2 linked regions of the Homo sapiens genome follow. The protein of the gene in region 1 interacts with the protein of each later gene in a pairwise test. Each region holds a gene or a part of one and is shown on either strand. Other genes may lie near its edges.

Evidence for each region.
Region 2: the proteins of FHL5 (region 1) and HEY2 interact in binary tests that used the Homo sapiens proteins (3 or more experiments, as listed by UniProt).

Annotation. Positions count from the first base shown.
Region 1 is NC_000006.12:96,608,107-96,615,131, forward strand, and holds part of FHL5 (four and a half LIM domains protein 5), read left to right. Parts: intron 1-2,465; coding exon 2,466-2,652; intron 2,653-7,025. UniProt on the Homo sapiens protein: May be involved in the regulation of spermatogenesis. Stimulates CREM transcriptional activity in a phosphorylation-independent manner.
Region 2 is NC_000006.12:125,745,735-125,752,635, reverse strand, and holds the start of HEY2 (hairy/enhancer-of-split related with YRPW motif protein 2), read right to left. Parts: upstream 3,005-6,901; 5' UTR 2,860-3,004; coding exon 2,777-2,859; intron 2,767-2,776; exon of another isoform or gene 1,110-2,766; intron 836-1,109; coding exon 757-835; intron 630-756; coding exon 546-629; intron 1-545. UniProt on the Homo sapiens protein: Downstream effector of Notch signaling which may be required for cardiovascular development. Transcriptional repressor which binds preferentially to the canonical E box sequence 5'-CACGTG-3'.

The sequences.
Region 1 (7,025 bases):
CTTAAAGACAGACTAAAACAGTAATGATATTTGTGAGAATTATCCTAAAATCATTTATCAGACACAATAATGAAGACTCTTTCAATGCTATAACAATTCAAGAGTGAAACTTCTTTAGTACATCCATGCTGAGCACTGTCTGGGCCAAGTGCTGATGTTTCCCAGGTTATTGGAGCCTGTAACTATATTTAGGATATGATTTGAAGTCATCAAAAATTTACAAAATATTTATATTGGGTAGTAGACAGATTATGACATGCCAGATTATTTTTTATTTAGTTTTTAAAACCACAAGTCCTTTTCTAAAAAGCTAGATTTGTTTTTGATCAAGATGATCCAATCTAAACAATTTTTTTCAACCCAAACCAAAGACCAAATATTTTCTTAAAAAAAGGAAAAACTACTTGACAACCAGGCTGTTAGAACTTTTAAGCTTTAAAATCCATAGATTTTATTTTGTTAAACTAAGATTTATTTTCTGCCAGAAAGCAAATGATTTTAAACTACAAGTGCTTCAAATTCAAACTCCTCAAGGTTCAAAAGGAGTTAAACGTCTTCTTCGATTTTTCATCTGTCACATAATGAGTGCAAAATCATTATTGCCCCCACTTTTTCACAGAACAAACTTGTTCTAAATCCTGAGATCAATCAGTGGTGAAAACCAAGCTTAGATATTAGACTTTATCTTACCTTCCTACCTCTTCAAAAGGAATATAATCACAAGCAAACTATTTTTGATGTTCCAGAATTTCTTCTCTCTAATTAAACAGTCTTTGGTGTATATATCAAGTTTTATTTTGCTGTGAATACATTTTTCAAGTTTCAGATCTTTTAAGCATTGCCTGCTAATCATCAGACCAAACAAATCAAAGGAATCATGAATTCTGCTGTGTCTGCTGTAAGGCATTGGAAGTCAGTAGGAGGTATTTTAAATTGCTTTACTTCCATCACAACATTATGCTTCCCATTTACTTATTCAGAATAGTATGCTTTTTTCCCTCTAGGAAAATATCTTTCATATCAAATATCTTTAATTTCTAAGATATTTGTTATAAGATTAAAAATACCTTTAGAATAATTTTTTCACAAGTCTATGTAACAGACAAATAACATTTTTGAGTTCGTAAACAACGAGGCGGCTTAAAATAGGCTCTAAGTTTTTACTACCTAGTTAATTTGATACAAAGGTTATAGGAACCACCTCAGATACCCCATTGCTTCAGTCATTATAAAACACTTACAAAAACACATTCCAGTATCTACAGCAATTCTAAGAGCTCATTAGCTGTGAATTCAAAAGGTGATGTGGCTTAAAAATAGTTACATGAGAAAAAATGCCCAAGATTTATCCATCTGATTCTAACTAAAGATTTCTCAGCCTTTTAAAAAGTAGAATTCATGGATTAAATTGGTTTAGAAAGAAAATATTATCTTATGCAGAACTAATTACATCTCAGGCAAAACACTGCACATCACACCTTAAGGCTCAATGTACAACCAGGGCTTATTCCATTGAGTTCTAATTCCCACAGCACCCCACTGCTAGATACAATATTGGAATTGCTTTCCAACTATTTTTTCCTTTGGCATTTATTCATTCATTCAACAAGGATTTTCAACTGCTTATCTGTGTAAGGTAACCTTGACTCAGTATGGCACTGATGGTGATGCACACAGGCTGTGGAATCAGACCATGCAGGTTTGAATCCTAGCTCACTATGGCCATGGCAAGTAACTTAATGACTGTAACCCTCACTAGTTGCTCATCTGAAAAGAGGGAAAGATAATAGTCTGTAGTATGTAGAGGTGTTGAGAATATTCAGAAGAGATCATCCTTAGCACGGTGGTAAGGACTGAAAAAACACTTAAGAAATGGTAGTTGTTATTAGCAAATAATGGTGCTTACCAATTCCATTCAGAATTACTGCTGTTGGATATTCTTGGACCTGGTGTAAAGCATTCAGGAAAAAGAAGAATTCTTTTAAGCATCCCTAAAGTTAGACAGGTAGTTATAAGAACATAGTATAGAAAATAGCTCTAACGGCAGATCTTTAAAAACCAAAATTAAGAAAATTCAGAGAAGTATGAGGAAGTGAAAAAAGAACCTGTGTGGTTTTTCTCCCCCATCTTCCTGAGTCCAATATGGCCCTGCCTCTGTTCTATTTCATTGTAGGAGAAAAATATACAATAATTTCCATTTCTTTCTACTTCTAATTAATTCCTATAGCCTTTGGCTTCTCATATTATTAATTTTTAATGACTTTTTGAGGAAAAGAACATCCTAACATAAGGTGAAAATAGAGTAGCCAAAAGCACCAGTTGTGGCATAGAAGACATGAAATGATCTTTTTTTTTTCTTTTTGCTTCCTTTTCTCCCCAGAGATACTAGGATCTCAAAAGAATCATGAAATGATCTGAATTGTAATGGCTCCCATGGTCATTGCCTTTTCTGTGGTCTTTGGCAGGTGATAACTTCAGGTGGGATAACATTTTGTGACCAGCTATGGCATAAAGAGTGTTTTCTGTGTAGTGGCTGTAGGAAAGATCTCTGTGAAGAACAGTTCATGTCCAGAGACGACTATCCATTCTGCGTGGACTGCTACAACCATCTTTATGCCAACAAGTGTGTAGCCTGTTCCAAACCCATTAGTGGTGAGTTCTTCAGTTCAATATGATCATGCCATGAGACAGTTATGACTTTATGAAACACTATCTAGTTAATTTAGGAAAAGCAATTAAAAAATGGGAAGCTTTCCTTTATATTTCCTTTTGAGATAAACACAAGTGGGTGCATATATATGAGTATAAATATTACATGGATTCCTCAAGGAAAGTACAAGAGTATAATTTGGGTGACTATACTCTGTGAAGGTAACTACATACTAAACCTAATGGTACTGACTCTAACATTCAAGGAAGGAGGAGAACAGGATGAGCTGAGAGGTTAGTGCAGGCCTTCACGAGGAGATCTGCTTGCAGCCTCATTAAGTTTTGAGTGGGAGGAGAAGAGTACTAATAAATCAAAATCCTGCTTAATTCTAAAATAGGACCAAGCATCCTTTAGTTAGGAAGGTTTTAATTAAATTCCACTATTGTATAGAACATCTGAAGCTGTAATAATTAAGGTAGCATAGGTCAGTAATTAATTAAACTTCATTTTAAGATGCTTCTAACAAATGTATTACTCTCTTTTCTCTATTCACTTGCAATTATGAAGTGTGTTTATGAGTAGATGAAAGAAAACAAGATAGCATTTTACTGAAAAAAAAATGTGACATGATTTGAAAATAACATAATGATAAATCAATCCATGTTAAAGAGGTTTTCAAGGTAAAAAGAAATACATCTTTTCCTCAGAGACACTTTTAAAATGCTAATCCTATAATAAAGGAACTGAAACTAGCATGACACTTGAGAAACTCAGCAGCTATTCTTTCTGGCAATTTATAATCACTTAATAATGTGTCAGAACTGTATATCTACTTTCTATTCCTAGTATTCTTAGAACATATTTCAATTTTTAGTTGTTCATATACCATAGAATTAAAGATCATTTTATCCCTTTCCTCCTTCTTCATCTTCAAATATGTGGCAAAATAAAAGTTGAGTCTTCATGCACTTTCCAACCAAAAGAAAAAGTTTCACAGCAAACCCCACCTTGGCAGGCTTTCACTGACTTGCAAAGGGAGGGAGGGTGTCACCAGAAAAAAACAGCATGGTCTTATTTGTCTATATGGAGCACCATCTGTGTCAGGATCTCACACTGGCTCACGGGCTACATCTGGCAAGCAGGCTGTTGATGTTTGGCCTGAACATGTTTGGAAATAACTAATGTAAAATCCATCTCTGCAGCTAAAAGTAGAGGAAGAGCCTGCCATTGGGTGAGCAGACTGCCTCCACATTCCCCAGCAGGGTCACCATCATATGGAACTCGTGGCTGTCCAATTGCATGGGGCATGCCCTCTCTGTCCCTTGCACCCTGTCTGCATCACTCAGCTAGATCACCTCCCTGGCCCTTGCAAGAACTTGCCTTAGCAATCCCACACCACTCGGCTCCAGGGTCCATGCTTTTAATTACCCTGCTCTCCTGCCTTCTACAAATTTGACAATTCCTATAGCCAAGAGATCTCCACTGATTTTAGTTAGAAAATGGGACTTTCAGATATCCAACAATACCTGGAGCTCCAGAATCTCCCAAGTAAAATCTGCAATCACAGTCCATTTATTTTATAACAACACTTATCTTGAATTGGGACAGAAAAAAAAAGGGGACTTCAATGAGAAAATAAGGAAATTAACAACTCAAAATAAGTTTCAAAATTCTCTGGAGATCCAGATGGCTAATACTGATCTGCAAAAAGCCTACACAAGCCCTGAACTTGAGTTTCAATTCTGGTATATCACAGATTCATGTGCCTAAGTGATTTTTTTCATAGATTGTTCCAGATCAATCACTGGGCCCAGCTTTTTAAAGTTGAGATGGAAAAACAACGTTGTTCTGCACAAAAACATGAGGATGATCAAAAGTAAATAATCTGACCCAAAAGTAATCTAAATTTTACCCAAAAGTAATCTAAATATTATATATTTAATTTAGACTCATCAGTCCACAGGAAATGTCTAATAACTATCTTAATCTTTTTTTTAACTTTGTGATTGAGACACCAGAGGCTGAAATGCCTGCAAAAACTTACAACTCACTTTACTATTTCTTCATCTAATTGTTAAATATCTATAGGCCCTGAAGTACTGCTTCTTTAAAATTGAGCTATTTGAACTGATGTACCATTGGGAATTCTGATATTGTCACACGTCTTCGGAAAATTGGCATTAATCTGATTATTATGTCACTTTAAAAGCTAGGTATTCTTGGTCAAAGGATACACAATTTCAGTTAAACAGGGGAAATAATTTCAAGATCTATTGTACAACATAGTGACTATAGTTAACAACTATGTATTATATACTTGAAAATTGCTAAGAGAATAGATTTTTAAATGTTCTCACCACACACACAAAAAAGCATATGATAAGGTAATAGATATGTTAATTGCCTTGATTTAGCCATTCCACAATGCATACATATACAAAAACATGTTATATAATATATGTACAATTTTTATTTGTCAATTAAGATTAATCAATTATTTTTTTAAAAAGCTCTGAGAAATCTACCCATAAATCACCAAGTGTAATTTTTAAAACCCATCACATTGAACTGCTTCATTTGAACAAACTCCAGATATAGCTACCATATTTTCTCCTCCTTTGAGATAGGATTAACCTCTTAAACTATCAGGGATAAATGAAGCTGCTTGATGCAGTGAAAGGTGCTCTGGACTGAGGAGCAAAAGACTTGGTCCTCCCTGCCCCCACTGCTGTGTCACCATGGGTGACTAACTCACCTCAGGGGTGGGGGGCCTTCATTTGCCTTATTTATAAAACAAGCAGTTGAGCAGGTTGGCTTTCTTCCATCTCTGTTTATTTCAAGGAAAAGGAATTTCAAATGTTGTGGCTTCTTCAGAGAGTGATGCTGATGTTCCTGATCATATTCTTTACCAAAGATAAACTCAAACTTAGTTTCATGAGGTTAAAAGCAGAGACTCTAAAGACAGATGGCCCTGGCCTGTGCTTAAATCTTAGATCTGCTGCTTACTAGCTGGGTGACCTGGGGCAAGCGGTTAAACTTCTCACTTCTCAGTTTTTGTCTGCAAAGTGGGGCTGATGCTAATATCTGACCCCATGAAGGTAAGGTGAGGGCTGTATACGGTAACACACATAAAGGACTTAGAATAGTAATTGGCACACAGTCAAGCACTCAACAAATGCCAGCTCTTATTCTACTGACTTGTCAGAAACCTATGAAACCAGATAACACAGGTGTCAAAGACCTGCTTCATGAATGGCTTTCTTACTGCAAACAACCCTCATGACCTAAGGGAGTAAACATATTCCTTTTGGAACAGTTTACATACATCTCACATGTTGGTTCAGCCCTTTCTTAAAGTTGCCAGATGCTTCTACTTTTTCTTATTTGTAAAATTCCGGAAGAATTGCTTTTATATTTGCCACTTGTACAAGGCTTACTAATAAAATTAAGAAAAACTCATGAGCATCAAAATGCTAGACATGTAATAATTAGTTTTATGAACAGCATAATTTATGTATATACAGAACATTACTCTTGCAGTCAGCTTATTAATGTTTTGAATAACATTAAGGGAATTAAGTAGTACATAATTAATTTACATTTATTAGGAAGTAATGTTGATAGCATCATAGATAAGCAAGCTATAAATTTAATCAAGGAAAGTAGAGAAATTTGATGCAATTTTCTGTATGAACTACTAAATTATATATGAAGACATCAAATAAGTTTGTTAGGATGGAAACAAAAGTTCATTATCCTATTTAAGAAGAATGTATCTGAAATAGAATGCTATTCACCCTTTCACTTCACCATTCCAAATGGAGTATTTGGAAATTACATATGAATTACATAACTCTTTTAGCCTCACTCCATGGATGATAAGCAAATAATAGCACTAAGATTACTGGGAGAAAACATGAAATAAATAAAGACCCAAGCCTAGGGCATCTCAACCTCTTCCCAAACCCTAACATTTTCTCCTTTAATGTAACTTCTCAAAATCAATTTCTTGAACTATACCCTGGAATCACATTAAGGAGACAGAGATCAGACCCTCACCGAAGATTCAAATTCGACTACTTTTTAAAGAAACAGTATGGTTCAAGTGAGGCCCAAGTTAAAGTGGAGGAGGCTGACAAAGCTCTTAGAAACCAATCACGTGATAACGTGGCTTCATTGGCCAGATTCAACAAAAGCTGAAGCTGGCTCTGAGCAAGGTAATAAGGCCATCACGTTAGGATGGCTGAATGATTAGACAAAATCCTCTATTTGGTTATGCTTTCTAGAAATAGTGTCCCAAACCGTATAACCCCAGGACATATTCTAAGTACAACTAAGCACAGAAAAATGAGGGGAAAGAAGAAAACTAAAACTC
Region 2 (6,901 bases), about 29 Mb from region 1:
CTTCTAAAAAGATGACCCAAATCAAATGGCATTCTACCAACCCAGGGATTAAAAATGAAAGCAAATGGCTTGGTAAATAAATTTTAGTGGTATTATCATTTAGGAAATAGAGCTAGAGATGTTACTTCTTGGGCTCTGATTGTTTTTTAATTAAAAATATTACATTTTAAAAAAATTTTGAGAAAAAAATGGTTTTTTTTTTTTTTTTGAAGGATACGGTATACAGCACAGTTTTAAATAAAACCACTACTGGTATTCATAGAAAGAACAGAGAAAGCATGAACACTGTTACCCTTAAGGGGAAAATAAGCTAAAGAATGGAAATGTTTTTCAACTTCATGATGGATTATGTTTTTAATAGTTTTGCCACAACAAAGCATTTTATTGAAATAGCTGCTCTGTGCCAGATCAGGGCACATACACTATTATTTTAATGAGCTTTAACAAGAACCCACATTCCCAGATGAGCGAATCAGATTGTGTTTGAGCTTTTTTTTGGGGGGTGGCGGGGTGGGTGGGGGGATTCTGGGGAGGGGATAGCTTACTTGTTTTTCAAAAGCAGTTGGCACAAGTCTTCTCAACTCAGATAAACTGTTATTTATCCGATCCCGACGCCTTTTCTCTATAATCTATCCAAAAGAAGCAAACAACAAAAGTTTATGAATTCACAAATGATAAAATTACTCAAATGAAAAAATGTAACTGTTACACAATAGTATAAGTTACATGAAATAAAAAGGGGGAAAAATCACATACCCCTCTCCTTTTCTTTCTTGCCATAATCTGAGATGTTGTTGTTGGAGAATTCAATCTAATCACAGAGCTAGTACTTTGCCTATGAAATAAGAAGAGTATGTCAGGTGCTGCATTAACATAACAATAGTTTCTTCTGGGTACTTGTGGCACCCATTAAATATTCAGAGTGATTGCACAGTTCAAGTCTGTGTTATTTTATTCTTAGTTCTTGTTTCACTCTTAACGGACTTTGCTTTCAGCCCGGCTGTCTCTTTTCAGGTAAAAATTACGCCTTAATTTGTAATCCAGATGCTAACCCATTGGCCAAAATGTCCCACAATTTTTACTTGAAAGTCTCCCAGTGAAATAATTACCGGCAGTTGGGCTGAGAAGTTAGATATTAGCATTTCCTAGTTCCACTCATATATTTTAAAGTCAACTAATCTCAAATAGCTTTCCTTCTCCCTCCTGTCAGGCACACTGAACAAAATAATGCCACTTTTTCAAATCAGGGTTATGTTAAGCACCACTATCAAACAGATGTGCAGTCGTCATACGTCAAACTCTTGTCTCTAGGTGCAAACTTTAAAATAAATAGAAGTTATCTTACTGTTTCAAAACTTCAGTTAGTCATATATTGCAACAGGAAAAAATTGACAAACTTGATGTTTTGCATACTAATCTTCCAAAAATATGCCCTAAATATGCCACTGATAGGAAAATTAAAACTCATTTTATTACTAGGTGAATGTTTTACTTTGAAAATGAAACTGTAGGTGTGTCTCAGACTTTAGGCTAAGCTTAAATCTCCAGAAGCTGCAATGCACCTTGGATTTACTAATGAAAATATATTTTTATATTGAAGGTTCAATCAAAGTATTATTTGGTCACATAATTTTTACAATCCTTTCTAGTTTGTATCTGTTTCTCTTCATAATTCATGGATACTATGCTTCTTTGTGTTCTCAAATTCCCCAGGTTCCTGTTATTTGTTCTCTTTCATTTTAGAAATGCTGCACACACCAGGTTGCTATTACCTCACCTTCTCACTTCTGGATCTTATTTCTGAATTACCTGTCCCCCTCATTTTCACCCCTTCTTTACGGGTTTCACCTTTCACGTGATAGCTTCTGTTTTTCAGACCTCATTTTTAAAGACGGCACAACAACACTTTAATGATCAGATACTTAAACCTTTGCTTTCGTGTAAATATCTTTGCTCTTGCAGATTTTGTGCTTTGCTTTGTATGTATTAGAATAACAATATGAAAGAAAACCAGTTTTCCAAAGGTAGGAAGAATTTCCCTCTTTGAGTGACAGCTGCAGATAAATAATTAAGGTGCTTCTGGGGATGCCAATTAGAAGCAATTATCATTTGACCCGCCTTGGCTCTAAAATGCCTCGGTAATCTCCCTCTGTCACAGGAAAGTGGAGGTCTGGCTTCTGTGATTACGACGCCGATCTCTTCCAGACTTGAGAACAAGCAGTCAAAGAAATGATGCCCTTTCCGATGCTTACATCTGTCACTCACTCTTGCGTTAGCCAAGTCACACACGGTCAACCTGCAAAGTTCAACCTACGTAGCCTTGACATCGCAGGTTGCTTTAATTCCTCCAAAAATCAAGTTGTGATTTTGGTATCTCTAAAAATCAAAAATCAAATTGTTTTTATTTTCTCCTGATCTATTTTGAAAGTGCCCCCAAATACGGTTTCAGTGGCTGGGACATCGCCTGTCGCCCAGACGCTGCCGTTCGCGCGTCCAACTGTGACAGCCAGGACCCTCCCTCGCCAACTCCTGCGCTCTGCCTTTCAGTGGCGTCTCCCATCCTGGCTACTCCACCCCTACGGTGAAAATCCACATCCCTTGCCCCATCCCAACTCACGCTCTGCGAGCGCCCACCACTCAAACTTTCTCAGGCCAAACTTTCCCTCTCTACCTAGATGCTGCGGAGACCAGCCTCGGGATTTCCAGGGAGCCACGCATTCACAAAGCTACCCCAAGCTCCCGAGCTGCGGGCCGCTCCCGCGGAGCCCGCGCTCACCCCGAGTAATTGTTCTCGCTCCCCACGTCGATGGTCTCGTCCATGTCGCTCTCGGAGGTCGTCTCCTCGCAGGGGCGCTTCATCCCGGCGAAGACCGCGCGGGGCACAGCCCGGCCGGAAGCTCGGACGCCGAGCGGGGCGCAGCACCCTGACGCCCGCCTCCTCCCTCCCCGGGCCTGGGCAGGCGCGGCTCCGGCGGCGGCGCGGTCTGCTCCTAGCGGCTCTTTCCCACGCCGCAACTCTGCTCGGCCGCAAGAGCCGGCGCCGGCCACGCCCCCCCCTCGAGCGGGTGGGGCCACCTCACCCGCCCCCGCGCACCGGCCCAGGCCTTCCGCCCGGCACCTCCCCCTCGCTGGTCGGCGTGGCTCGCGATTGGCTGGGCCAGGGGGCGGGGCCGCGCTCGCCAATGCCCGCCGCAAGGCTCCAGCCGAGGCGTGGGAACGCGGCCGCGGACCTGGTACCCCAGAGCAGCGAGCGGGTGGGGAGCAGCCGGGGCGAGAATGAGCGCAATCTTGCTAACCCCTGCGGAGGGAGCGCGCGGGCGCCAACGCGGGCGCGCGGGGGCGGGCCCTGGACCTGGACCTTGGGTTTCGGCCCTCCTCCGCGCCCCGCGGTCTCGCGGGCGAAGTTTCAGTCCTGAGTGTAAAGAATAACCCCAAGCGCGTGGCTAAGTGCGAGCAGGCGCGTGTGACGTCGGGAGGCGCCGCGGCTCCTCGGCCGCCCCACTCGGTGGTCCCCTGTCTGGATCCAAACTGCTGACTGGCTGACCCGAGTGGTCACATTTGCCCTCTGGGGCTTTTGAAAACCTTAAATCAAAATTGCTTTTGAATCTGACAACTCCTGAGGCTACTTTCGCGGCCTCGGGGCTGTTTCATATAAGGACGCGAGTTTTCCTGATCAGGTCTGTCGGCCACGTTACGATTTCCAATTTGCGATCCATCAGTTACTTCCATTGGGTCTTCAGCCCCCAGGGACTGTGGATCCTAGACCCCGCGGAGAAGCCCGTGGACTGGAGCTGTGTCAGCTCTGATGGTAGGAAAGACTAGATCAATGACGCGGGCATTTCAGGACATAATCGTATATTTTCAAGTTCGAGTTTTTCGGGCTTGGATTATCCAGATAATTGCCTCCAGTCTCCTCCAGTCCCCCTGGTGTATGCACTCGCAGCCGCAGAGTTAGAGTCCGGGAGGTGAAGATTGGCGCTTGGAAATTAGATTTGGTTTCTAAAGTATGAATTCGTGTCCAACAGTTCGTGCCTTGGACAACGTGGGTTGTATAAAACTCAAGCTGTGTGTTTAAAACAGGTTTTCTAGCTGCTGGTTCTCTCCAAGTTATGTAGGACTTTTGAACTGGCCACCCCGCTGTGCGTCTGCGAGGGCAGGGACTGAGCGAGACCCAGCCAGGGGCGCCGGGAGACTGGCGGCGGCTGGGTTGGGGTCCAGCCGGAAACCACACGTTGGCAGGGCCGCTTGGTCAGTAGTGGAGAGAGCCTCTGAGAAAGGGCCGTCTATCGATCCCCAGACCCCTCCGTCACGGAGGGATTCATAGCTTCCTGGGGATCGGCCCAGGGCGTCCCTTTGACACTCCGTTCTCTGTCCACACAAGCCCGGCGCGGGGCGGGGAGAAGAGGAAAGGACGCGACTGGGAAAGACGGGACCCTGGCGGGGTTTGGCCCGGGGGAGAGCGGGAAGGAGCCCGGTCGGCGCGGAGGACCTGCGGCCAGCGTGCTAAGCCCTTATTAGAACAGAAACCCCTTTCCCCCCACACTCTCATCTCTTTTGCGCGGTCCCCACCGCCATGCCTTCAATAACCTTGTGAATAGAAACCCGAATCGTTCCATCTTGGCTTCTGAAACTTAACCCCAGGCAAAGCACACACTCGGCGGGGCCAGGTGGGGCTGGATGGGGTCCGCGCCCGACGGCGGGGCCGCGGGGGTCGGTGAACCCCAGCTCCCCTGTCGGCCTCAGGGCGGATGGCTGGGTCGGCGCGGGGTTCGGGGCCTCCGATCGGCTGCACGAGGGCGGGCCAGGACCCAGACCCCGTCCCCGCTCCGGCCCCGCAATCCAGCGGGTGACGAGCCTGACGCGCGCCGGTCGCCTGCCACCTCCCGCCCCGAGCGCCCTGGGCCAGTACCTCCCGGCCGCAGGTGAACGCTCCGCGGCCCGCCAGGCTCAAGCTCGACCGTCACAACTTTCCGTGAGGGCTGCACGTTTTTCTGAATTCAAATGCCTGCAGGTGCAACTCATGTTTGCCACACGGGCAATTAGCGGGCGCGTCCAAACGCCTGAGGCAAAACCTGAGATCATCACTGAAAAAAAAAAATCTAACAGTTCTTTGCCACTATACTAGTGTATTTAATTATGATTGCGAAAAATTGCAGAGGGAAACGATTTGCTGGCAATTAAGTAGCAACTGGTTAAAGTTTTTTTTCAATTTGTCTTTGAAGACAACTGCTGTACTATGTATAAAGAAGAGTATAGCAGGGAAGTTCGAAAGCACACACGGAATTTTAAATCTGTTAAAAATATTTTTTAAGCAAAGAAGGTGGTATTTTAAAAGCATTTAAAACAGCGCCTGGTATATAGTAAGCGCCATAGAAGTCTGTTAAGAATGCATAGGGCAAGAGAGCTCAGGGTTTTGAACGCTATCAAAATAATATGCTTATTTATCTGCAAAACACAATAGCAATTAGGCAGCACGAGATTTCCCCATTAGGTCGTTTATTCTCCTCAGCTGTTTATTCCATTTGCCTGTCCCTTGGTTGAGCGCCTTGTCTGTCTATAACCGAAAGTGCGTTTCGGGTCAGAGAGACAGAAACAGACACAGGAAACCCTTTAAAGCGCCCCCGCCGACTTAAATACGGTAGTGGATTGGAGGTGGGGAGGTGTAGGGGAGGCGTTATGTGGAGAGAAAGAAAAGAGAAAGAATGAGGGAACGGCGGGATTTCAAGCCTCCCCGCCCTTCTGCGACAACCTTTTCAGCGAAAGGGAAGGCTTAGGAAGAAAAGATGTCCGCGCGTAGAGCAAACCGCAGTTCTTTCCTTTCTTTTTGAAGGATTTGTACCATGAGTTAATTACACCAAAAGATACGAGGGACTTTATTAGAAAGGAGATGCCGTTAGGAAAGAAAGGCCAGGACGGCCGATCTAAAGGGAATGGAGAAGGGAAGACTCAGACGCCCTCCCGAAATTGGTGGTCTAGCCTGTGTTTTGTGCTAAATGTTATTTAACTTAATGGCGTGGGAGTGAGATGTTGAATGCAGAGATCTGGAAATACCAGATTTAGTGGTCCTGTTCCTCCTCCCCGACTCTTTTCACACCCATTTAATAAAAAGTTACAGTTTTTACACCCGTATTGATAAATTTGGCGATGTTGGCCAAGTATTATCTCGCCCCGCAGATTTTGAATTTTGTTGCACAAACCGATGAAATGATTGCTTTGCTATAATTGTAAAACTTTTTTGGAACGAACCTGGATTTTTTTTATGCCTCTTCATCTACTTTTTGCTTCATTAGAGCCCTCTGGTTTTCCAAGATCGACTGTCACACTTTGTTATTTGTTGCTTCTCTAAATCCTTTGAGATGCTGCTCGCAGCTACGTAAAAAACGTTGGCCACTCAGGTATTTGATGGGCTTAGAAAGTCACCAAGATGTGACACCATTTAAAAGTTTTAGCTTGGTTTCTCAGTGAAATAAGGGCATCTCTGTTAATTAGAAAACTTTGTGTTAGTCTGAGATGCCTAAGAGCATAGTCCAAATTGAAAATTCCAATATTTTGCCACATCTGAAATATAATTATTTACACAGCCTTCTCTTTCAAAGGGAGGACAAACAGGTTGCCTTGAGAAGAGCTATTCTATTTGCAATTGCTGGGGCAGGTGACAAACACGTGTGTATCTGTGGGCAGCCTTGTTGGGCTGCCTTCCCTGACTACAAGGCTTTTGTGAGCTGGTAACGCCTTAAAATGTGTGAGAATGCTGCGCCCTAGGAGTGGAGGCCAAGGGCAAGATCCTTGTACATTTCAATACCTTTTCCAACATCAGGCTGGCAGCAGGCAGGCCAACCTAGGGTCACTGTGTGACACATATTTGCAAGCCAGTAAAGCAAAACAAAGCTGAAAGCAAGTG